7 linked regions of the Homo sapiens genome follow. The protein of the gene in region 2 purifies or fractionates together with the protein of the main gene of each other region. This does not show direct contact. Each region holds a gene or a part of one and is shown on either strand. Other genes may lie near its edges. The genes, in order: ERLIN2, ARRDC5, DSG2, BTBD10, ATP11C, CACNA2D1 and KCTD20.

The links.
Region 1: the proteins of ARRDC5 (region 2) and ERLIN2 purify together in Homo sapiens (affinity purification with mass spectrometry; one large-scale study listed by BioGRID and IntAct). This does not show direct contact.
Region 3: the proteins of ARRDC5 (region 2) and DSG2 purify together in Homo sapiens (affinity purification with mass spectrometry; one large-scale study listed by BioGRID and IntAct). This does not show direct contact.
Region 4: the proteins of ARRDC5 (region 2) and BTBD10 purify together in Homo sapiens (affinity purification with mass spectrometry; one large-scale study listed by BioGRID and IntAct). This does not show direct contact.
Region 5: the proteins of ARRDC5 (region 2) and ATP11C purify together in Homo sapiens (affinity purification with mass spectrometry; one large-scale study listed by BioGRID and IntAct). This does not show direct contact.
Region 6: the proteins of ARRDC5 (region 2) and CACNA2D1 purify together in Homo sapiens (affinity purification with mass spectrometry; one large-scale study listed by BioGRID and IntAct). This does not show direct contact.
Region 7: the proteins of ARRDC5 (region 2) and KCTD20 purify together in Homo sapiens (affinity purification with mass spectrometry; one large-scale study listed by BioGRID and IntAct). This does not show direct contact.

The regions. Positions count from the first base shown.
Region 1 is NC_000008.11:37,743,134-37,746,633, forward strand, and holds part of ERLIN2 (erlin-2), read left to right. Parts: intron 1-1,221; coding exon 1,222-1,283; intron 1,284-1,437; coding exon 1,438-1,563; intron 1,564-2,435; coding exon of another isoform or gene 2,436-2,470; exon of another isoform or gene 2,471-3,417; intron 3,418-3,420; exon of another isoform or gene 3,421-3,500. UniProt on the Homo sapiens protein: Component of the ERLIN1/ERLIN2 complex which mediates the endoplasmic reticulum-associated degradation (ERAD) of inositol 1,4,5-trisphosphate receptors (IP3Rs) such as ITPR1.
Region 2 is NC_000019.10:4,900,097-4,904,100, forward strand, and holds the start of ARRDC5 (arrestin domain-containing protein 5), read right to left. Parts: upstream 2,801-4,004; 5' UTR 2,730-2,800; coding exon 2,477-2,729; intron 1-2,476. UniProt on the Homo sapiens protein: Plays an essential role in spermatogenesis. May be involved in the anchoring of the sperm head to the tail during spermatogenesis by affecting SEC22A-mediated SUN5 and NDC1 transport and localization.
Region 3 is NC_000018.10:31,546,343-31,549,508, reverse strand, and holds the end of DSG2 (desmoglein-2 preproprotein), read right to left. Parts: coding exon 2,766-3,166; 3' UTR 501-2,765; downstream 1-500.
Region 4 is NC_000011.10:13,453,223-13,456,722, reverse strand, and holds part of BTBD10 (BTB/POZ domain-containing protein 10), read left to right. Parts: intron 1-3,500. UniProt on the Homo sapiens protein: Plays a major role as an activator of AKT family members by inhibiting PPP2CA-mediated dephosphorylation, thereby keeping AKTs activated. Plays a role in preventing motor neuronal death and accelerating the growth of pancreatic beta cells.
Region 5 is NC_000023.11:139,797,054-139,800,553, forward strand, and holds part of ATP11C (phospholipid-transporting ATPase IG), read right to left. Parts: intron 3,058-3,500; coding exon 3,007-3,057; intron 1,691-3,006; coding exon 1,626-1,690; intron 1,302-1,625; coding exon 1,220-1,301; intron 274-1,219; coding exon 123-273; intron 1-122. UniProt on the Homo sapiens protein: Catalytic component of a P4-ATPase flippase complex which catalyzes the hydrolysis of ATP coupled to the transport of aminophospholipids, phosphatidylserines (PS) and phosphatidylethanolamines (PE), from the outer to the inner leaflet of the plasma membrane.
Region 6 is NC_000007.14:81,945,944-81,948,360, reverse strand, and holds the end of CACNA2D1 (voltage-dependent calcium channel subunit alpha-2/delta-1 isoform 1 preproprotein), read left to right. Parts: 3' UTR 1-1,917; downstream 1,918-2,417. UniProt on the Homo sapiens protein: The alpha-2/delta subunit of voltage-dependent calcium channels regulates calcium current density and activation/inactivation kinetics of the calcium channel. Plays an important role in excitation-contraction coupling.
Region 7 is NC_000006.12:36,449,500-36,452,999, reverse strand, and holds part of KCTD20 (BTB/POZ domain-containing protein KCTD20), read right to left. Parts: intron 1,486-3,500; exon of another isoform or gene 1,368-1,485; intron 1-1,367. UniProt on the Homo sapiens protein: Promotes the phosphorylation of AKT family members.

The sequences.
Region 1 (3,500 bases), on a different chromosome or scaffold from region 2:
GGATGCTGGATTGGACAGAGACTTACAAGAAACATAAACAGAAGCAAGGGTGAGCATTGATTAGAACCTGGTTCAAAATTAACAGCTATAACAGATACGACAGAAACTATATGAGTCCACTCAGGCTGCCATGACAGAGGACTACACACCAAGGGACTAAAATAATAGATATTTTCTCACCATTCTGAAGGCCCAAAGTCCAAGATCCGGGTAACAGCAGGGGTAGTTTTGGTGAGACCTCTCTTTCTGGCTTGCAGGTGACCACCTTTTTGTCACATCCTCACAAGGCCTTTCCTCTGTATGTGCAAGAAGAGAGAAAAAGGTCTTTGGTGGATACCAGACCTTTTGGATTACAGCCCACCCTTATGACCTGTTTAACCTTAATTACCTTCTTAAAGGTCTAATCTCCAAATACAGTCACATTGGGGGTTAGGGCTTCAACATATGAATCTGGGGGCGAGGCATACACAGGTCAGTCCATAACACAAACTGTTGGGGAAATCTGAATAAGGACTGGGTATTAGGTGATATTACAGAATTATTGCTAATTTTCTTAGGCTTGGGAATGATACCATGAGTGTGTAGGAGAATGATTATTCTTAAGACAGTGCTCACCAAAGTAAAGGAGTAAAGTATCCTAACTGCAGCTTACTTTGAAATGTTCAGAAAAAAAAAAGGTCAATAAATAAGGTAAAATGTTATCAGTGTTGAATTCAGGTATCTGGATATGGATGTTAGTTATACTACTCTTTCGGCTTCTCTATGTTTGAAATCTTTTTATAATAAATATTTGAGGGCAAAGGGAGTGTGACACCAAAGTAATAGTGAAGACAGTTTAAGAAACATTGATCATAACATTCCACAGTAACCTTCTAAGTTCTGAAAACTTCACCTTGACCCTCCTTAGTCTTTTCCGTGCAACTGATTAATCAAAAGGCATTGCTGATTCCAAAGATATGAGTTACTCTTTCGTACTGGTCCCCAAAAGTCTCATTCATGTCTTTGTAGAGATGTTCCTAGGCAGTGTGATTTCTCAGGAGAGTATGTTGTTGCCATGAGCCCTGCAGAACCTCCCACTTGGAGATCCAAGCTGCCTTCCAACTTCCCGTGAACTCTTCTACTCCTTTTCTGCCAAGCCCCACATCTTACGCCATCACCCTGGGGGACTGCACCATATTCTAAGGCTTCCCAGTGACTTCTTGTCCATTCTCCCTCCAATAGTGGTGGTGTGATGATCTACTTTGACAGAATTGAAGTGGTGAACTTCCTGGTCCCGAACGCAGGTACGTCTTAACAGTTTATTCCCACCACCAGCTCACTTTCCCCAGCATGCCACTCCCGTGTCTGTTGTAGCACCTTGGAAAAGGAGAGCTGCCGTGTCTGAGGGCATTTTGAGTCTTGCCTTTTCTTATGCCAAGCCCTCTCCTTCCCTCTCAGTGTATGATATAGTGAAGAACTATACTGCTGACTATGACAAGGCCCTCATCTTCAACAAGATCCACCACGAACTGAACCAGTTCTGCAGTGTGCACACGCTTCAAGAGGTCTACATTGAGCTGTTTGGTAAGAAAGTCTCTCCTGAGCATGCCGTGCTTAAGCAGGGTTCCTGGAACCCCGCGTCTCTCCACTGCCTAAAGCCTGGCTGCCTGCAGGGTGTGATGGTCACTTATGGACAGGAAATGTTAAAGAATCTTGTGCTCAGGAGCTGGTCACAAAGGAGTTCATGGAGAATGCTGATAGCTATGCAACAAGATCCTTAGAGGGCTGGAGCTTTGGGCACAGGGACCATAGTGGAGTAGAGTATTCACTTCTGGCCTCAATCAGAGGCTGGAGTGGAAATGTGTTCCCACTGTTCCTAAACTATCATTCTATAATGAAGACAAGGTCCATTCTAGAAGAACCTTAGAGATTGTCCAGACCAGCATCCTCATTTTAAGCTGAGGGTACTGTGACCCAAAGCAAGAAAGTCACAGAGCCAGATGCCAATTAGTAGTGGGGCTGAAACAGGAGCCTTCCTCTCCTGGCTCTTCAGCATTCTTCTCACCATGCAACACTGAATGGAGGGCCCCCAGGAATGGGTGATGAAAAAGACATGATTCATAGTTAATTCTAGAAGTGAGATGAGAACCATAGCTCCTTCCAGTTCTCAGAACCTTTGTGATTATTATTTTTTTACTCTGTACCTGTAGCAACGAATAGAAAAACACTTTAAACAAAAAGATTCCACGTGCCTAAGTAGATATGTTTTGTCCTTTTTACCTTTTTCAAAGTAAAGGCAACCTGACTTAGCAGCAAAGGAAGGACACAGTTGGGTAACTGTTATAACTTGTTTGCAGTCAAGTATTCTGTTTAAACTCACTGCCAGAAATTCTCTAATAGCCAATGCCAAAAGTAAATGAATTTTTAACCAATAGTATAACTGTTCTTGACACTAGGACTGGAAAATGATTTTTCCCAGGAATCTTCATAAAAGGGACCCTGAGCAAGAACATTTTTCATAGCAGACAGGAGGACTCATCCACATCGCCAGCAATCATAATTAAGCAAACCGCCTTTTGCACCATTTAAGATTTAGGAAATCATCCAAATTACTTTTAATGTTTCTGCAGTAGAAAATGAATCTAAATTCATTTTATAGGGTTTGTAGTCTTTTATCTGTTTTGGATTCACTGTGCTTTTAAGAAAAAGTTGGTAAATTTGCCGTTGATTTTTCTTTTTAACCTCAAACTAATAGAATTTTATAAAATATTAATTTTCTCTAGCCATTGTCTTAGGACTTGTGACATTACATGAACATTTCAAAGCACTGAAAAAAGACAAAGGATCCCTAATGTCCCTGAAGAGGAAATTAAAATACAAAGTTGTTTTTCATTAGCAAACTTCTTACTTTCTTACAGCTAAACTTGGTAGCTTAGTGAAGTACAGCTGCTTGTATGGAGGAGCTGGGGAAATATATTTGCTTTGAAACTTTTTTATTTTTACATCTCAGTCTTGCTAGCAAGCACTACTTGGCTTAGAATCTGTCATATCCATAAAGGAGGAGCTCATGTCTCTAGTCCTGGCCCTTCAACTCAGAAGGTTCTTCTATACTTTCCTTCTCTCAGGACTCTTATAGCCCAGACTTTAAACATGAAGCTGCATAATTTTCATCACTTCTTACTCTGCCGCATCCTCTTTGCCCATGTTATTAAAGTATTATCTAATACTTTGAAGTTTACCTGAAGAACCTCTTTGTGTGTACTTAGTAATACAACTTTTTTTCCTGTCCCAACACCTTTTAATACAGTTGAATGGATAAAAACATGGATACAAACACATGGATATAGTTATCACTGAAGCAGTGTGACATAAAATAATACCTATGTATACAACACTCCTCTGTAAATAGCAAATGTAAAGTAAAAGATACACAACAGATCATTTTGTTTATCTCACTATCATTTATTAATCTATAATGTATCCCTCCTATGTATCCATGCAAGGAAGCAATACTAGCTGCC
Region 2 (4,004 bases):
CATGAGCCACCGCGCCCGGCCAGCAGTCTTTTTTTTCTGTTTCTTTCTTTTTTTTTTTTTTTTTTTTTTGAGACGGAGTCTCGCTTTGTTGCCCAGGCTGGAGTGCAGTGGCGTGATCTCGGCTCACCGCAAGCTCCGCCTCCCGGGTTCACGCCATTCTTCTGCCTCAGCTTCTTGAGCAGCTGTATTTTTTGTATTTTTAGTAGAGACGGGGTTTCACCATGTTGGCCAGGCTGGTCTTGAACTCTTGTCCTCTGGTGATCTGCCCACCTTGGCCTCCCAAAGTGCTGGGATAACACGTGTGAGCCACTGTGCCTGGCCAGAAATAGCAATTTTTAAGCATTTACTGTATACCTGGCATTATTCTAAGCGCTTTATGTGCCATTAAATCATTAAGTCCTTAACACAATCTTATGAAATAGGACCTCTTCCTACTCCCATTTTATAGATTGGTTAACTGAGAGCCAGAGAGGTCACATAATTGCTCAGTATTAGTGTCTGGTAAGTTGACATTTGTCCCCAGGATATTTGCATGGCTGGAGTCCCTCCTATCACTCAGTTCTGTGCTTGGTTGTTCCCTCTTTGCAGAGTACTCCTCTGGTGGAACAGACCATCTCATCTAAATTTTTAAAGTCTAAAATGGCCAGGTGTGGTGGCTCATGCCTGTAATCCCAGCACTTTGGGAGGCCAAGGTGGGCGGATCACCTGAGGTCGGGAGTTCAAGACCAGCCTGACCAACATGGAGAAACTCCGTCTCTACTAAAAATACAAAATTAGCTGGGAGTGGTGGCACACGCCTGTAGTGCCAGCTACTCGGGAGGCTGAGGCGGGACAATCGGTTGAACCCAGGAGGTGGAGGTTGCAGTGAGCCAAGATTACGCCACTGCACTCCAGCCTGGGCAACGAGTGAGATTCAGTCTCAAAAAAAAAAAAAATTGCTAGTTCTTTTTTTAAGAGACAGTCGTTTGAACCCAGGAGGTTGCGGTGAGCCGAGATTGCGCCATTGCACTCCAGCCTGGGCAGCAAGAGCAAAACTCCGTCTCAAAAAAACGAAAACAAAAAATAAACAAAAATTAGCCAAGCATGGTGCCATGTGCCTGTGGTCTCAGCTACTCAGGAGGCTGAGGTGAGAGGATCGCTTATGCCAGAGAGGCTGGGGCTGCAGTGAGTTTTGATCACACCACTGGCCTCTAGCCTGGGCAACAGAGCGAGGCCCTGTCTCAAAAATAAATACATAAGCCAGGCCTGGTGGCTCATGCCTGTAATCCCAGTACTTTGGGAGGCCGAGGTGGGCGAATCACGAGGTCAGGAGTTCGAGACCAGCCTGGCCAACGTGGTGAAACCCTGCCTCTACTAAAAATACCAAAAATTGCTGGGCATGGTGGCGGGTGCCTGTAATCCCAGCCACTCAGGAGGCTGAGGCAGGAGAATCGTTTGAACCCGGGAGGCGGAGCTTGCAGCGAGCCGAGATGGTGCCACTTCACTCCAGCCTGGGAAGCAGGGCGAGACTGTGTCTCAAAAAATAGATAAATAAATAAATAAGATACAAATAAATAAATACAGAAATAAATTAAATTAAATTACACTTTGTTCAGCCAAGTGTTGGCCACGTGTTCTGCTTGACTGCTTAATACCTGGGAATATCCCCACAAACACATTTTGCAATGGACATATAATTTCCCCGACAACTCAGCAGACTCTCTGACATTTGTTCAGATTTCAGATCTGACCTGGTGGAACTGGGGACTAGTTATTCCTTCTCTGGAAGGTCTCCCTTGCTCTTCTACCTCCACTATCTTTCTTTTTTTGAGAGGGAATCTCGCTCCGTCACCCAGGCTGGCGTGCTGTGGTGCGATCTCAGCTTACTGGAACCTCCCCTTCACGAGTTCAAGTGATTCTCTTGCTTCAGCCTCCCAAGTAGCTGAGATTACAGGCACGTGCCAGCACGCCCAGCTAATTTTTTGGTATTTTTTGGTAGAGATGGGGTTTCGCTATATTGGCCAGGCTGGTCTCAAACTCCTGACCTCAAGTGATCCACCTGCCTCGGCCTCTCAAAGTGCTGGAATTACAGGTATGAACCACTGTGCCTGGCCCACCTCCACTGTCTCTCCCCATGAATGCAGGACTGCCTACTTTGTCTCCTGGGGTTTTGCTGTCAGAGTGAAACTTATCTGTAAAAGAATAAGACTTCTCAGAGGCCTCTCAAAGGCAGTTGTTGGATTGAGCATTTTCCAAGGAGACTACTTTGAACCTTCATTTTGAATATCGGGGTTCCGATCAGCTCCTTATGTCTTGTTATTTTTGCGTTTTGTGTATCTGATGGTCATTGTTCTTCATGGCCTCCCTCCTAGGGAGAAATCAGGCCACTCCCTATTTCTGATAGCCCTAGAGTTTTGTTGATTGACTCTCGGATGTGTTTATTTTCCAGACCCAGGTTCCTGTCATGGCTAGGGGTGGCTGTTGGCCTCGTCCTTACCCTCCACTGGGAATGTCTTTGTCTTATGCACGTAGTCTGCCTTGTTGTTGCAAATAACATTTCTGCTATAATCACAGGATGCCCCGGCTTCTTCACTCCATTCGACGTAACCCCTTCCCACGAGCTCCACCTTCACTATGGGGTCCACCAGGGTGCTGTTCAGGGTTAAGATCACCTGCCCTTTTATGCTGGAGCCAGCCAGGTAGATTCTATCCTCGGGCAGCACTAATTCGATCGACTTCACCACAGACATGGGGGGTTGGGGGGTAGAGAGACATTCCTCTCTGTCCCCCATGTCCCTGAAATTCCCGGTTCGTTGGCCCTAGTGAGGTAATCCATCTATGACATCACTCAGCTCAGAGTTCCGGGAAGTGGGGACCCCAGTGGCCAGGAGGGGAGGCAAAACTGTTGTTTAGGGTGGGTGGTTGATTGGGAAACCTGTAGTCCTCACTGGTTCTTTTTTTTTTTTTTTGAGATGGAGTCTTACCCTGTAGCCCAGGCTGGAGTGCAGGGGTGCCATCTTGGCTCACTGCAACCTCCGCCTCATGGGTTCAAGCAATTCTCCTGCCTCAGCCTCCTGAGTAGCTGGGACCACGGGTGCATGCCAGCATGCCCAGCTAATTTTTTGGTAGAGACAGAGTTTCACTGTGTTGGCCAGGATGGTCTCGATCTCCTGACCTCGTGATCCACCCACCTCAGCCTCCCAAAGTGCTGGGATTGCAGGCGTGAGCCACTGCACCTGGGCTTTTTCTTTTTTTGAGACAAAGTCTCATTCTGTCACCCAGGCTGGAGTGTAGTGGCGCGATCTCGGCTCACTGCCACATCTGCCTCCCGGGTTCAAGCAATTCTCCTGCTTCAGCCTCCTGAGTAGCTGGAATTACAGGCATGCACCATCACCATGCTTTGCTAATTTTTTTTTGGTATTTTTATTTATTTTATTTTTATTTTTTGTGATGGTCTCACTCTGTCAGCCAGACTGGAGTGCAATGGTGTGATCTCGGCTCACTGCAACCTCTGCCTCCTGGGTTCCAGCGATTCTCCCACCTCAGCCCCCCAAGTACCTGAGATTACAGGCAAGTGCCACTGCAACTAGCTAATTTTTGTATTTTTAGTAGAGACGGGGTTTCACCATGTTGGCCAGGCTGGTCTCGAACTTGTGGCCTCACATGATTCGCCTGCCTTGGCCTCCCAAAGTGCTGGGATTACAGTTGTGAGCCACTGTGCCCAGGTGCATACACACTCATTTTCATCTTAAAGACTCTACATTTATATTGGTCTATATTGGAAAAAACATAGAGATATGGCCAGGACCTGAAATCTGGTGCGCACTGAAGTTGATCAGGGCAGTGTGTGCTTAATCTGAACATCGACACCATCAGGAAGCAGCAACTCCCTGCATGATTGACATTTCTCTTTTTTTTTGAGGTGGAATCTCACTCTGTTGCCCAGGCTGGAGTGCAGTGGCGTGATCTCGGCTCACTGCAACCTCTGCCCCCTGGGTTCAAGCGATTCTCCTGCCTCAGCCTCC
Region 3 (3,166 bases), on a different chromosome or scaffold from region 2:
AGAGTTCTCCGAACCTTTTCTAGTTCCAGGGCAGCCCAATTTTGTGAACCTTTCTTTGCTTAAGTAAACTGTTAGATTTAATTTGTTTAAAGCTCTTCTTTTAACATTTTACACCCAAGTTCTAACCACCCCTTTGAGCTGCTCATTCCAGTTACTCCAAAGCATGCATGAGATACACATGTTAACAGACTAATGTTTGTTTTTCTCTTGTTAATCTGTGTTTTGTTACAGAGCCCCAGCTGGGGACCTAGAAGAAAATTTGTTTTTCTTCTCTTATAGCAGCAACTCTGATCTTTTCCCTTCTAAACTATAACAAGCAATTAAAACAGCCTCTCAAACATTGGTAGAATGATTTCATCTCTTTGGGTTAGATATACTAGCCTTCTTCTGCCAGACCCAACAGATTTCTCCAGTGTTACTCTGGGCAGAGAGCAACCTTCACTTCCTTAGGAACAAGGTTGCCAGAGTTGGACAATGAAAATGCCAAGTACCCCGATAAATTTGAATTTTAGATAACCGACAACTTTTTTTATTGCAAGCAGATCTAATTAAATAACAAAGTCCAAGAAACACCTGCCTTTAAGGCACTCTCCCTAACAAACTGAGTTATATTCCTTGTAAAATATAATAGAGAAATAAAAATCTATGGGGAAAGGGTCACTCTAAAGATACTTTTTATTTAAATATTTTATGATGATACATATACAAATATAATCTTCCAAAAAACAAATGTAAAACTAATACAAATCACTTTTTCAGGAACAAAGAAAATCATTTAGAAAATGTGATTATGCTAAAAGAGGCAGGTTAGGTTTCCAAGGCTGCTCAAGGTGGAAGCTTAAGACCAACTTTTGTTTGAGTACACAAGTGATATTTACATTTTCATATACTAGTGATATACCTGTTGCATACTTGGCAAAATAAAACTGATAGTAAGTCTATAATAATAAAAGAAACAACAATTACTAAGTAAACAATTCTAGATGATGGAAGAGTAACCTCCATTTAAGCTACAGACTTAGATGTCTAAAAATATGTGTCCTGATCTGTACAGTTAGTGGGAGCACACTATATAAATCCTTTGCATGACACCATTCAACAATATTTTTTAAAATCTACAAAATTTTAAAGTTTCACTTCCCTAGCAAAATATCTTCAGTCAAGAAATTAGTCTTTGAAAATTATGAAAATTGTTGTGGGAAATATTTATACAAATTATTACTGATAATGCACATATATTTTGAAACATTGTTTCTAGAAGCAATAAAATATAACCTATTTAGGAGATAACCCAAATGATTTGTAAAAAAATTAACTTGTAGAAAAGGGAAGGATGTTGTGTAAAATCAAGTCAATTATTTGAGGTTTTTATAATATTGAGTACTTATGTACTAAGTCACACCCAGCCAGTCAATAACTGAGAAATCAAAATAAAATAATAATTTCAAAGAATTACATAAATACAGGGCCTTTTGAGATTTTTGGCAATTGTAAACAAAAACGAATGGTTTTTACAATTCAGTGTAATTCTACGAATATTTATTTGGCACCCATGTTAGGCACTGAGGCTACACAGCAGTGAAATAGGCCTAGTTGTTCTCAACTAGAGAACATAGTTGGTTAATGTAGCTGCACTGAATTGTAGCTGTTTAGAAGATAATATACCCTGAGGCTTTTTAAAGTATACTATTACTATAAGAAGTAAAATTATTTTATACTTATAAATTTTGTTTTGGATTATTCAACTGAATTTGGAGTGTTCAGAATTTTCATGGCGGTTGAGACAAGGAAGAGGTATAATGCTATTTTTTTTTCCTTTTCTTTTTTTTTTTGAGACGGAATCTCACTCTGTTGCCCAGACTGGAGTGCAATGGTGCGATCTCGGCTCACTGCAACCTCCGCCTCCCGGGTTCAAGTGATTCTCCTGCCTCAGCCTCCCAAGTAGCTGGGATTACAGGCGCCCACCATCACGCCCAGCTAATTTTTGTATTTTTAGTAGAGACGGGGTTTCACCAGGTTGGCCTGGCTGATCTCAAACTCCTGACCACAGTTGATCCACCCGCCTCGGCCTCCCAAAGTGCTGGGATTACAGGCGTTAGCCACCACCCCTGGCCAGTATAATGCTATTTTTAAGACTATACAGTATGTACGTGCACACACACACACTGTCATGTGCACAGAAACATACAATGTGTATTCTTATCATCAATGGTCCAATTTAATGAATCACACAGATTGAAAGGGTTCAAGTCTTAAAGAAGTTATGAGCACCATAGCTGGTGCTCAGACTGTGCATGTATCTTTGGATCAATGAGTTGTTGAAAGTCTGCTGGGTGCAGTAAAGTACAGAATACAGAACATCAATGTTTAATGTTAATACGGTAGGCAAAGAGACCCAGTCAGTTTCCTGGGTTGCTTTACTGGACGGCTGATGAACTAGGTACTCTGTTCACTTGGTAAATTCTCAGAAGCCAGATTGACTCTCTATGTATCTTGTTTTATCAGGATTGTTTGCATAGCTTGCTAAAAGGCACCTAAGCAGCAGCATCATCTCTATGTCTTCAGTAAATTGTGGAACATTTCTAAAATACTCCTGGAAGCAGAGACAGTGTGGTCCTTTGCATATCAGTGACTGAGAAAAATTTTAAGATCAATGTGTATGTGTCTCTGTGTGTCTGTAAGGCTCATGAAAAATCAGGTACATTGGAAACATGAAATTAGTCACTGCTAATTAAACTCTGGGTCAGTTTGTGGCTGACTGCTGTTTAGGAGTAAGAATGCTGTACAGTGCTATGCTTGGTAACTCTGGTGGAAGATGTGGTTATGGTAGAATTAGAATGACCAGATTCCTCTAAACCAAAATCTGGCAGAGGGCCAGGGACTCCAGCTCCAGACACCGTGGTGTTCCTAGCCGTCATAGAATTTTCAGTGGGAATCTGGTAACTGGATTGCAGAGTGGAAGCAGGTGCTAGAACTCTTTCTGTCACTGTCACATTCTGTCCTACTGCTATATTAGGCATGGCCAGAGTAGGCTGCACACCTGAGCTGGGGGCAAGGAAGCTCTCTCTTTCCCTCACCATGACGTAAGGTACATCTTGAAGATGCTGAGTGCCTTCCAGAGGATTCGATCCACCCCCATGAGGCTGTATTACTCTTTCAGTGACCA
Region 4 (3,500 bases), on a different chromosome or scaffold from region 2:
ATTTTTCTGAGGATTGCCCATTTCTTTGTGCATTGTCTGTTTTGGAGAAGAGAAATTGTCTTTTTCTTTCCTTCTTTAAGGAACTCTTTATATACTATGAAATTAGCCCTTTTAAAAAAATTACTTGTTTTTAAAACTTTATTTTTTTCTGTGCTTTTTGCAAGTAGTGGTGTTTTTCGTAGGCAAATAGGAAAGGCTTTCTCTCCTTCCCGGTTGTCAGTGAAATCACCCATAATTTTTCTAGTATTTGTATGATTCCAGTTTTTACATTTAGATAGTTGATTTCATTTGGAGTATATCCTTGTATGTGGTATGAGGTACGAATTCAGTTTCATGTTTTCCTGAATGTTTATTCAGTTGTCCCAATACCATTTATTAGTGTCTGTCTTTTCTCGATGACTTGAGCTATCACTTCATCATATATTGAAGTTCTTTATGTTTTAGGGCTCTGTTTCTGGGCCTTTAATTCTCTTCTATTGGTTGGTTTGTCTATTCATGCACCACAGACTTTCAATTATTGAAATGAACCTTAATTCAAAGATCTTTGAATATAACAACATTTTTAATTTTATTAAAGTGGAATGCTACCTATAGTACCAAGACACAAAGATGTGTAAAATGTTTCTTTGTGAGCAAGTGTTTTGTCTCAGGGCAAATTTTAGATTCCTTAAACTTTTCGGACAGTGCAGACGTAGAACATTTCCATTATCACACTGTTGTGATAATGGAAAGTCGCGCTGAGCAGTGAGTGCTACAGTCTAGAACTTGAATCATATTTAATAGAGCCTTTACTAGCCTGTTGAATTGATGGCTGATAGACAAAAATCGGAAAGGAATGGAAGGTAAGGGGAATAATGAATAGGTCAAAATGGAACAGCATAATAAAGGTTATATGAAAAAACATAAAGCATCATGGAAGGAAAAAATATTGTTTAAAATATTGTCTGACTTTGTTTAAAGGGTGTTGCTTCTTAGGAGTTGACCATAATCTCCTTTGATTTAGGCATCAGCTTCAGGAGCATTGCCTGTATTAATTGATATTATGTCAAGATGGTTTGCTTCAACTAAGGTGTTTCTGGTTTTGAAGTCAACACTTTTTGGTCATAGTAGAAAATTAAAACATTGTTATTTCTTTAGGATATTAAAAAAATATGCCTTTTGAGTTTTAAGAAGGTAGCCTATAAACTAAACAGTGTCTAGTTACTTAACAATGCTAATCATGTAATGTAGGTACTTTGTAAATGCTTAAAATATGGAAAGATTTTCAAACATTTATTGAGCTGTTTGTGATGGGAAAGAAACAAATGAATAACACTTCATTTATTGAAGTGTTAATGTGTTAATTAAGAAGTCAGCAAAATTTGAATAGAAATTCTATAAAAGTGATAAAATCAATTAGCACAAAGATTTTATATCCAAATCACCTCTGGAACATTAAGGGTTGACTGAGCTGACTTTGGAAGTCTTAACATCTTGGTGAATTAGAGATCACCCTTTAAGTGGACAACAGGGCTGGGCGCAGTGGCTCATGCCTATAATCCCAGCACTTTGGGAGGCCAAGGCAGGCAGATCACTTGAGGTCAGGAGTTCGAGACCAGCCTGAACAACATGGTGAAACCCTGTCTCTACTAAAAAGAATACAAAATTAGCCAGGTGTGGTGGCACACGCCTGTAATCCCAGCTACTTGGGAGGCTGAGGAAGGAGAATTGCTTGAACCCGGGAGGCAGAGGTTGCAGTGAGCTGAGATTGCATCATTGCACCCCAGCCTGGGTAACAAGAGCAAAGCTCCGTCTCTAAATACATAAATAATTAAATACAAATAAATAAATAAACAACAGATCCTACTTTTAATGGAAATACCATGCAGTTTTATTAAATCTGTTTGTTAGAGTCTCCCTAGCAGTTATCAAAATGCCTGAAAGGTGCTTAAGTACTCAATAAATAAATTTTGAATGAAAGAATAAATAAATTTTATTTTATTTTTAAAAATCTTTTTAATTTTAAAATTTTTATTTAATTTATTTTTTTATTTTTAGACCTGGGGGTCTCATTATGTTACCCAGGCTTGCCTTGAACTCTTGGGTTCAAGCAATCCTCCTGTCTCAGCCTACCAAGTAGGTGGGATTATAGGTGCATGCCACCATACCTGGCCACTTTAATTTTATATGGTGAAATTAGATACTTACAATTCAATTGGTTATAAAAATATCCTGAATAAAGTTCTCAGCTAAGCTTGTCTTGTTTTAACTGTAACAAATCAGAAAAGGTCAAGCCTTAACAATTGAAAGGGCTTCTGTGAGATTTAAATAGGCACATCTTTGAGGAATGTTTTGGGGAAACTTAGGGCTTGTTTGGTAATAGCTTGAAAAATGTTTTCAGGGATGTGATATTTTCTGTCTTTTATCCCCACTATCTTGATATGTATTTCCTGAGAGCATTAGAAATTGAATTGTTATAATTTTTGCTTATTTGAGAGTGAGAGTCACATGATTGGTGCTCTTTGCAATAACTAAAACATGAGTACAGGTATATGACAGTATTCTTTTAAGACAACTAAAAGTTAAAGACTGCTTATAAATCTTTGTAATTCTTATTTCCTCTGCACTAGTAAATTATATTAAGTGAAATGTCCTTCAGTTTCTTTCTTCTTCTTTTTTTGTTTTTGTTTTTGAGATGGAGTCTTGCTCTGTTGCCCAGGCTGGAGTGCAGTGGCGCGATCTTGGCTCACTGCAACCTCCACCTCCCAGGTTCAAGCGATTCTTCTGCCTCAGCTTCCTGAGTAGCTGGGATTACAGGTGCCCGCCAACACGCCTGGCTAATTTTTATATTTTTAGTACCAGTGGGGTTTCACCATGTTGATCAGGCTGGTCTTGAACTTCTGACCTCGTGATCCACCTGCCTCGGCCTCCCAAAGTGCTGGGATTACAGGTGTGAGCCACCGCACCCAGCCTCTTTCTTCTTAATGTAGTTAACATTTTGTAAAAGCTTACATACAAATTGTGCTAGGCTGTGGGGACACAAACCTGAATCATACTTTGTTCTTGCCCTCAAGGATCTTATAGTCTAATGGGGTACATGTGGCAGAAACATATTCTATCAATGCATATGTAGTGACTATATTTAAGCAATCCAAAAAAATTTACAAAACTACACTTAAGCAGTAAAATTAAACAAGGAAGAAAATTTCTATAGCACTATCACCTCCAAACACTTTTTAATAAACCTTCCTCAATATTATCATTTTGAAAATAATATGTAGAAAATTCAAGTAGTATGAAGGGATACAACAAAAAGTAAGTCTCCTTATTCCAGCATTTTCTCAGAGGCAACTAGTTTTAATTTTATGTGATATTTCTAGACATTTTATCTTAACATATACAAGCATGGATGAGTGTGTGTGTGTATGTGTATTTAATTTTTAAATTTTCTTTTTTCTGTTTTTTTGTTTTTGTTTTTCTTGTGTGTAAATATGGGATTACATAATGCATATCTGTGTCTT
Region 5 (3,500 bases), on a different chromosome or scaffold from region 2:
CACCATGTAATCGAGAGAAAATTCAGAAGCTAACAAAAGGTGCCGTTTCCCTGAGCAGCATTTCAGTGAAGGTTGGCTCAGTCACAAAAAATAGTTTCAATTTTCAGCAGAAAACAAATTACCTTCAAGGTCTCTCGCTCTTTCTGAGTCTTTTGGTTATACCAAGGTTCATCATTGTATGGGGTACTTTGCCAAACATACTTTAGAGTAGTGCATACTGCAGCTTTGGTCAGTAAGATAAATAAATATACAATCAGGAAAGCATTAATAGATCTGAAAAATAAGATAGCATGGATTTTAAAACCAAAGACATCAGTCAGATATGAATTAAACTACTGAGTCATCTAAAGCTTTTTCTGTGTACGACGCGTAACTACAGCACAAGCCTTTGTGTATTAACCTCAGTTATCATAGCTGCAGCATTACTTTCAAGTGGCAAAATGGAAAAGCTGGCCATGAACTGTTTATTGACCACCAATGCTCCCCCAAGTGCAATGGCTGACTAGCTGAACACACCTTATTAAGGTTCCTGTAAAGTGACAGGAGAGGTACACACATGCACACATACACACACCATTACTTACTCAACCCTTATAGAAAGAGTATCTTGTCTCCATTTCCCTGAATCCTAAATGTTTGGGGTAGAGGGCACGGTAGCAATGTGAAATCCTCAAGCTCGGTGTAGGTTCTTTCAGTTTAAAAGTGGAGCTATGGAAAGGGTGCCAGTGATATACTGGTTATCCATGCCAAATACAGGGTGAGGTCTATAGCAGTGGCAACTGGCTTGAGGATCTACGAGGCACTGCTTCAATAGGTGCCAGGAGACTATTATCTATATTATAGAACCAACTTGCATATAGCAACTAAAGGACTCCAAACCATTAACTCCACTAGCAAAAAGGAATGAATTTACAGTTCAAGTAAACTCTGCCCTTTAATAGCTATGTGAGCTTAGGTAAGTCACATACCATCTCCAAGACCATTTCCTCATCTGTAAAGTGGAGAGGTTAACATGAATTACTTCACAGTGTTCTTCAGAGGACTAAACCAAATCAGACATACAAATCATTGAGCACAGTTTCTGGTACATAAACAAGTGCTTAAAATTGTAGTTGCTATTATAATTGATGTTGTTTTTTGTTATGCTTGTTACTTGGAATTACCAAGAAAGTAACTATTTTAATCAATAATGACTAAATAAATTGTGGCGCATACTAACTTTTCAACAGCAGAACGTTTCTGAGATTTCCCTTGGTAGTTCAAAGCCATTTTGGTTTCCATTCCAGTGTAAACAGCAACTCCTAAGAAATTACAGAATATAATAAAAACTAAGAACTTGTCAACCAACTCCTCACCCAGCTGGCTCTATGAATTTTTAAGTCTATAAAAGTGGGAAATCTAGGCCCTCTTCCACTCACCAGTTGTATATCATTTATAGGATAATTTTAATTATATATAGTATTTGTCATATTTCGTCTTAGTTTACCACGTTATAAATTCCCAACACCTAAATGTAGGTTTAAATTAAATGGCAAACCTGCCATGTTTACTTTTTAATATGCACTATTTATTCACAGCCTTTACAAAGCATATTTTTTGATAGGTGTATCTTAAAAATTGTTCACCATATATCTTCTCGGTATTTTTTAGCGTAGCTCCTTTCAGCAAGAGATTTTCAGGTCCCAAAGACCTAAATAAAAAATGAACACAGCTTATCCAAACAAGCCAATAGCATCAACAACTCTGGGGACAGATTTTGCCCTGACACACACCTATCTCCAAGGGGTTCAGAATGTTATCTGTCTACTTATACCATATGCTTACTCCCCAGGACAAGCTGAAAGGTCCTTCACTCTGAAGTTACTTGAGGGTACAGCACAGATGGAAGCACAGTACGGGAGTAGCCAGCAACACACATAGGCAAAAAAAATACATGGGGGGGGATAAAAGGATTATGAATCATGGATAGCAAGACGAGAACAGAACAGAGCAGCAGATCGCAAGACACAAAAGCAGACAGCCATCAATAAAAGACAGGGAATGCAAACGTCAAGGTGGGAAAAATATACTGACATATTTGGAGAGAATAAACCCTCCTTTTGGGGGATCACTGGGGACCCTGTATTTCTTTAACTTTTTGAGTGTGGCTGTAAAGGCCAAGTGGAAAAGTTGCGGTAATTAATATGATGATAGAAGAGGAAAGAAAGCATCCCTTTTTGTATGAACTGCTTGATAAATTGTATGAAGGCTGATACATACAATTCGTATACATAAAACAATTCGTTTTAATGAAGCCTTTCATTTTACGTAAGTCCAGGTAGTTCTTCCAGCATTTTACCCACTGCTTACTTTCTCAATTACTCTCCCACTGTTCTCCAGTTATAATTCCAATGTTGTCAGCCACTTCACAACCGAGGATAATAAATAACATGGCTAGAACAGGTTTGGGAATATAATCCAAAATGTCTGGAGCTCTGCTATTTTGGAAACCATAAGCATTACTTCTAACAGCCCCCTCCCCACAACACAGAGACCCTATCACCACAACTCTACCAATCACAAGGTTAGTTGCTTATTCACCTTTATATTCCTTTTTTTTTTTTTTTTTTTTTTTTTGAGATGGAGTCTTGCTCTTGTTGCCCAGGGTACAGTGCAATGGCTCAATCTTGGCTCACTGCGACCTTCGCCTCCCGGGTTCAAGAGATTCTCCTGCCTCAGCCTCCTGAGTAGTTGGGATTACAGATGTGTGCCACCACGCCCAGCTAAATTTGTATTTTTAATAGAGATTGGGTTTCACCCCGTTGGCCAGGCTGGCTTCAAACTCCTGACCTCAGGTGATCCACCCACCTCAGCCTCCCAAAGTGCTGGGATTACAGGCGTGAGCTACCGCACCCGGCCTATATTCCTTTCTATAATAGAAAGGTATTTGGCTATTTTAGTTGATTTAACAGAAAAATAGACCCCCCCCCCCAACCAAAGGACAAATTAAAGAAACAGCAAACTTACCTGGCAACAGCCTCAAGACTATTACTGTAGATATTGATTCGCCCAACAAATCTGTAAAAAGAACAAAATTGCAAATGTGTTTTCTACATCCAGGTGAAATCCATGTACCAGAAATATGAGAATGAATGAAAATACAAATAATAAAACAGAGATAGATAAAACTGTGAATGAACTACAAAAGCCTATTATATTTCTGGGGGAAAAAAAGTTATGTTGAATTGATAAGGTGTATAACATTTTCATATAATTTTTAAATAACATGATGGGATTATAGGAGCAGAAACAAAGGTTCTCAATTGATTTTCAAGTTCTGTTTAACATCATGCATGCACACAACACCTCTCTCTTTTATAAGTTTATATAAATAACGTAACTTCTATCTTGGATCATGTGAAGAAAGGTTTCTGGTGCTAAAATACAATTTTCAAAACCGCTAGTTCAGTAGTTCTTACACTTGAGTGTGCATCAGAATCACTGGAGCGCTAATTAAACCA
Region 6 (2,417 bases), on a different chromosome or scaffold from region 2:
TCATAACTGGTATTGACATTTTAGAAAACACCAAAGTGATTTAAAATATATGTGGGGAAAAAAACTTCTCACTCTAGTAACAATGTTTTAATCATGTTGTTTGTTAAATATTTAAAAGTTATTGTTCAATTTTTGCTAGACTATCTTAAATCATGATAGTGTTGGGAAGGGGGTATCAAAATATAAAATTGTTAGTTTGTGTATATAAACAATGCACATTAAAACAATTGAATTGCTTCCAGCATACAACAAACTACCTTAAAATTATGTTCAAAATCTATTAAATATATTTTCATGGCTAATGTCGAGTATATGTTTTCATCAATTACATTGTTATTGTATTAATCGCGGTTAAACTTGGCATCTCTTGGCAGGATCCTATTTAATTTCTGTTGCCATCAAAATATATTTATATGCATGAGTTTTGCTATAAACCTTTATTTTCTGCTATAAAGTTATATATTATGACAACCATAAATGCAATTACAAATTGGGTAAGAACAAGCTGAATAAAAGTTGTTCCCATGACTAATATTAGTCTTCATGCTTTTAGCATATTTTTTAAGACAGTAACACTCATCCCATCAAATTATTACATTACATTTAGTATTTTTCTGAGTTACATTGACAAGAACTTAAATTATAGCCTGTTATTAATATTGATTTCCAACGACTGAACAGTACAACAGATCAATAAAAAAGTTTATACACTGCTTTAACTAATTTTTGTTATACTCATGTGGCTTAGTGTAGTTAGTCACTAAAACAGAGTTCAAGTGAGCTTGGCAATGGTGTTGAGTAACAAGAAAGAATTTTGCATTAATGATTTCTTTTTATTTTCCTCATTTAAACAACCAGCATTACTGCCAAACACCAACCGTGGTCCATATTTGTAACAGGTTTTTAACATGACATAGTTAGCAAGTTTGATTGAAGAGATTTTTAGGTCCTGGGCCTATAAGATTTTAGTATGATCTTTTTTCATGTTTCTAATGCTTGAGGTGTTACTGCTTAACTTGGGAAAAAAAAAAACAAAAAACAGTGTTCCTGCCATTTGTAAGTTTTCCTATAATATTCCTTTTATTAACTTTAAAACTGGACTTATCGGGTTCAAATAGGCAGTATCCCTTTTAAGTGACCTTTGCAACCCAAGTGTTACTTGCTTATTTGATGCTCTCTTGTATTTTAAATCTCATTTAAATCTTTGTCTGTGACCAACAAAGCTTAAGATTTTGTCTTCATTTAAAACTCTGAATCTATTCCATTGATCATGTTAGACGTTCAAATGTTTAATGGTATAGTCTGACCTAGTGAAACAAAATGGATGTTGTTACTTTTTTTAAAGAATAGAATGAAATAACTATTTCACTTGCCCAAAATTTTAAATATTTTTTCATCTAAACTTGTATTGTTTCCCATAGCAGAATGTCAATATTCACAGTACATTTCTGTAAAGAGCAAACCAATATAATGTTTTGAGTGTTGAAAAAAATTCCAGATTTTTGAAGAATTAGACAACTCTTCATCTACCTTATTTCTAGTTCACACAGTTATCTCAAATTCCACTGAAACTAATGGGATACTGTCTTGTGTAGATGCCAGTTGAGTTTATAATGTGACCTAGTAAAGCTGTCTTTTTTGTTGTGTTGTATGAGTGTCGGATCATGCTTTTAGGAATACTTTTATTAAAATGGTGTGCATTCATGCAAAAGGCCAACTGGCTTTTGTGAACAATAGATCTTTTCTCCCCTTTATTTTGTTCTCTTGACACTTTTGTGAAAATTACCTAGCCTGATAAAAACATTTTGTAAAAATTTGTATAATACTGTTATAAAATATTTATAATCCCAGAAAATGTTGTGTTAAATCTTGTGCAAAAACAGTATATTCAGAATAAAAGTTTATCATTTAAAGTCACCACGCGGTTTGGGTTTTCTGCTTTTTAAAAGATCCAGTTGGAAGAGACAGATGGCTCTGTCATAAATAATTTTAAGAGAGAATTCTGGATTGTGGAAATAAAAGTTGGGATTAAATAGTGCTTTTACAATTACAAACCTCAACTCACACAAATACAGTCAATCCTTGAACAACATATGTTTGAACCACATGGATATACTTATATGTGGATTTTTTTCAACCAAATGCAGATTGAAAATACAGTATTTGCAAGATGGAAAACCCACATATACCAGGTGCCTACTTTCTGTATACTCAGATTCTGCGGGGCCACTTTCCAGACTTGACTTGGGTATGCATTGATTTTGATACACGTGGGCATCCTGAAACTGATCCCCCCCACGCACAGAGGGATGACTGTCAATTCACTCGCGATGCCTTTACTTAAGTCTAACCTTCTAACATGCCTTCTCCATCAAGGCACTTAGGAATGTACTTCATCAGACTTTGGACTTCTTTTA
Region 7 (3,500 bases), on a different chromosome or scaffold from region 2:
GCTAAGAAAACTGATAAGCCCTAAAAACTGATCAAGAAAGAAATAATGGTGGTAATGTCTGCACAACTTTGAATATACTAAACCACTCAACTCTATACTTTATATGAGTGAATTGTATGTTATGTGAATTCTCTCTCAGTGAAGTTGTTTTAAAAAGAAAATAAGGCTGGGCGCGGTGGCTCACGCCTGTAATCCCAGCACTTCGGGAGACTGACGCGGGCGGATCACGAGGTCAGGAGTTCAAGACCAGCCTGGCCAACATAGTGAAACCCCATCTCTACTAAAAATACAAAAATTAGCCAGGTGTCATGGTGTACACCTGTAGTCCCAGCTACTCAGGAGGCTGGGGCAGTAGAATCGCTTCGGGAAGCGGAGGTTGCAGTAAGCCAAGATAGCGACATTGCACTGCAGCTTGGGCAACAGAGTGAGACTTCATCTAAAAAAAAAAAAAAAAAAAAGAAAATGAAGATGCACACTACAATGATCACAGATGAAAAAAGACTATCAGTACACATCCCATGAGACTAAAAAGATGAGCAGTTATTTTGTACAATTTATGCCAGTAAATTAGAATTTGCAGATTAAATGAATATTCTATAATTTATTGAAACTGACTTAGAAAAATTAGAAAATCTGCAAAGTCCTATATCTAGTAAAGAAATTTAATTGATAATTAAAACTTTTCCAGAATCCAATGGCTTGACTAGCAAATTTTCCCACACTTTTAACGAAGAAATTATATCAAACTTTCTCATGAACATAATCACAAAAATCCTAAACAAATTATGAGAAAATCAAATTCAGCCACATAAAAAAGGATAATACATTATGGCAAAGATTGGTTTAACATTCAAAAATCAATTCATATGATTCACCAATTAAAAAAATAGGCCAGGCACATTGACTCACACCTGTAATCCCAGCACTTTGGGAGGCCAAGGTGGGCAGATCACTTGAAGTCAGGAGTTTGAGACCAGCCCGGTCAACATGGCGAAACCCTGTCTCTACTAAAAATACAAAAATTAGCTGGGCATGGTGGTGTGTACCTGTAATTCCAGCTACTCAGGAGGCTGAGGCATGAAAAGCACTTGAACCGGGGAGGAGGAGGTTGCAGTGAGCTGAGACTGCACTACTGCACTGCCTGGGTGACAGAGTGAGACTCTGTCTCTAAATAAATAAATAGAAATCTGTTTGAAAATAACTAAAATAGGGCCAGGTGCAGCAGTTTATGCCTGTAATCCTAACACTTTGGGAGGCCAAGGCAGGAGGATCGCTTGAGCCCAGGAGTTCAAGACAAAACTGGACAACACAGTGAGACCTCGTTTCTACAAAAAATAAAAAAATTAGCTGGGTGTGGTGGCACATACCTGTAGTCCCAACTACTTGGGCAAGGCTGACGTGGGAGGACTGCTTAAGCCCGGAGGTCAAAGCTGCAGTGAGCTGAAATCTTGCCACTACACCTCATCCTGGGTGACAGAGCAAGACCTTATTTCAGAAAAGAAAATAACTGAAATAGTGTGAAATAGTATTGATATATTAGATTTTTAAAAGGCAAGTTGAAACAATAAATGTATCCACAGAAAAAAGATGGAAAAGATTATTCTCCCTTAACTGTAGAATCACGTGACTTTTCTTTTAAAAAGTTATTGTCTTACTGAATATTCTAAAGTCTCTAAAATGAATGTGTTATTATCTTTAAAATAAGGAAAAATGAAAATGTATCTCTAAAAACAGATACCTTCTCAAGAAAACATTGGAATCATTGGAATGGTTTCTTAAAAACTGCTTGTAACTAGGTTCCATGGCACACTATTGTAGCCCCAGCTACTTAGGAGGCTGAGGTGGGAGGATCACTTGAGCCCAGAAGTTCTGGGCTGTAGTGCGCTATGTCAATCAGGTGTCTGCACCAAATTTAGCATCAATGGTGACCTCCCAGGAGCAGGGATCCACCAGGATGCCTAAGGAGGGGAGAACTGACCCAGGCTGGAAACAGGCAAGTCAAAACTCCTGTGCTGATCAGTAGTGGGATCAAGACTGTGAATAGCTACTATGCTTCAGCCTGGGCAACACAGCAAGACTTCTAACTCTTAAAAAGTAAAATAAGATAAAATAAATTTTTAAAACTGCTTGAAACAGTTTAAGAGAAAATTTTTAAAGTTTAATCAGAAAACAATATATTATCACATAAAATAGTTTGACATTCTTCCATCTAGATTAAAGAAGAAATGAGCTTAATAGATGAATTAGGAATTTAAGTTAATGTATGGAATAGTTTTTCAAGCACATTATTCAGTAGGCTAACAGGATAATCTTAAATATAACATAACACAATGATTTATACAGAGGCATAATATGCTTCTCAGGGTATACAAAAGTAAGCATGGTTCTGAAGAACAGGTAAAGCCAGTCACGTGAAAAAGAATGCTGCCTGGGCCTCATGGCGTAGGACATAGTGATGAAGGAAACGAGCATTCAGATTACCCAACACATAACCTTTCTTTTTTTTTTTTTTGAGACAGAGTCTCACTCTGTCACCCAGGCTGGAGTGCAGTGGCACAATCTCAGCTCACTGCAACCTCTGCCTCCCAGGTTCAAGCGATTCTCCTACCTCAGCCTCCCGAGTAGTTGGGATTACAAGCACGTGCCATCGTGCCCAGCTAATTTTTGTATTTTTAGTAGAGACAGGGTTTCGTCATGTTGGCCACGCTGGTCTCAAACTCCTGACCTCAGATGATCCACCTGCCTCCACCTCCCAAAGTGTTGGGATTACACGCAGGAGCCATTGCACCCGGCCCCAATACATAACTTCTTTTTTTTTTTTTTTTTTTTTTTTTTTAGGACGGAGTCTCACTCTGTTGCCCAGGCTGGAGTGCAGTGGCGCAATCTCGGCTCACTGCAAGCTCCGCCTCCTGGGTTCACGCCATTCTCCTGCCTCAGCCTCCCAAGTAGCTGGGACTACAGGCGCCTGCAACCACGCCCAGCTAATTTTTTATATTTTTAGTACAGACGGAGTTTCACCATGTTAGCCATGATGGTCTCGATCTCCTGACCTTGTGATCCGCCCGCCTCAGCCTCCCAAAGTGCTGGGATTACAGGCGTGAGCCACCGCGCCCGGCCACCAACACATAACTTCTTAAACAGATTGTCGGGGCTGAACTGTGTCTCCCTCAAAATTCATATGTGAAGCCCTAACCCCTAGTCCTCAGAATGTGCCTGTATTTGGAGACAGTGCCTTTTAAACGAAGTCATTAAGGTGGGCCCTAATCCAATATGTCTGGAGTCCTCAAAATGGGGCGAGTAGAACACATAAACAGAGGGATGACAATGTGAAGATGAGAGGTGAAGCCAGCTGGACTTCCTGGGTCGAGTGGGGACTTGGAGAACTTTTCTGCCTAAAGGATTGTAAACGCAATTGGAGAACTTTTCTGCCTAGCTAAAGGATTGTAAACGCACCAATCAGTGCTCTGTGTCTAGCTAAAGGATTATAAATGCACCAATCA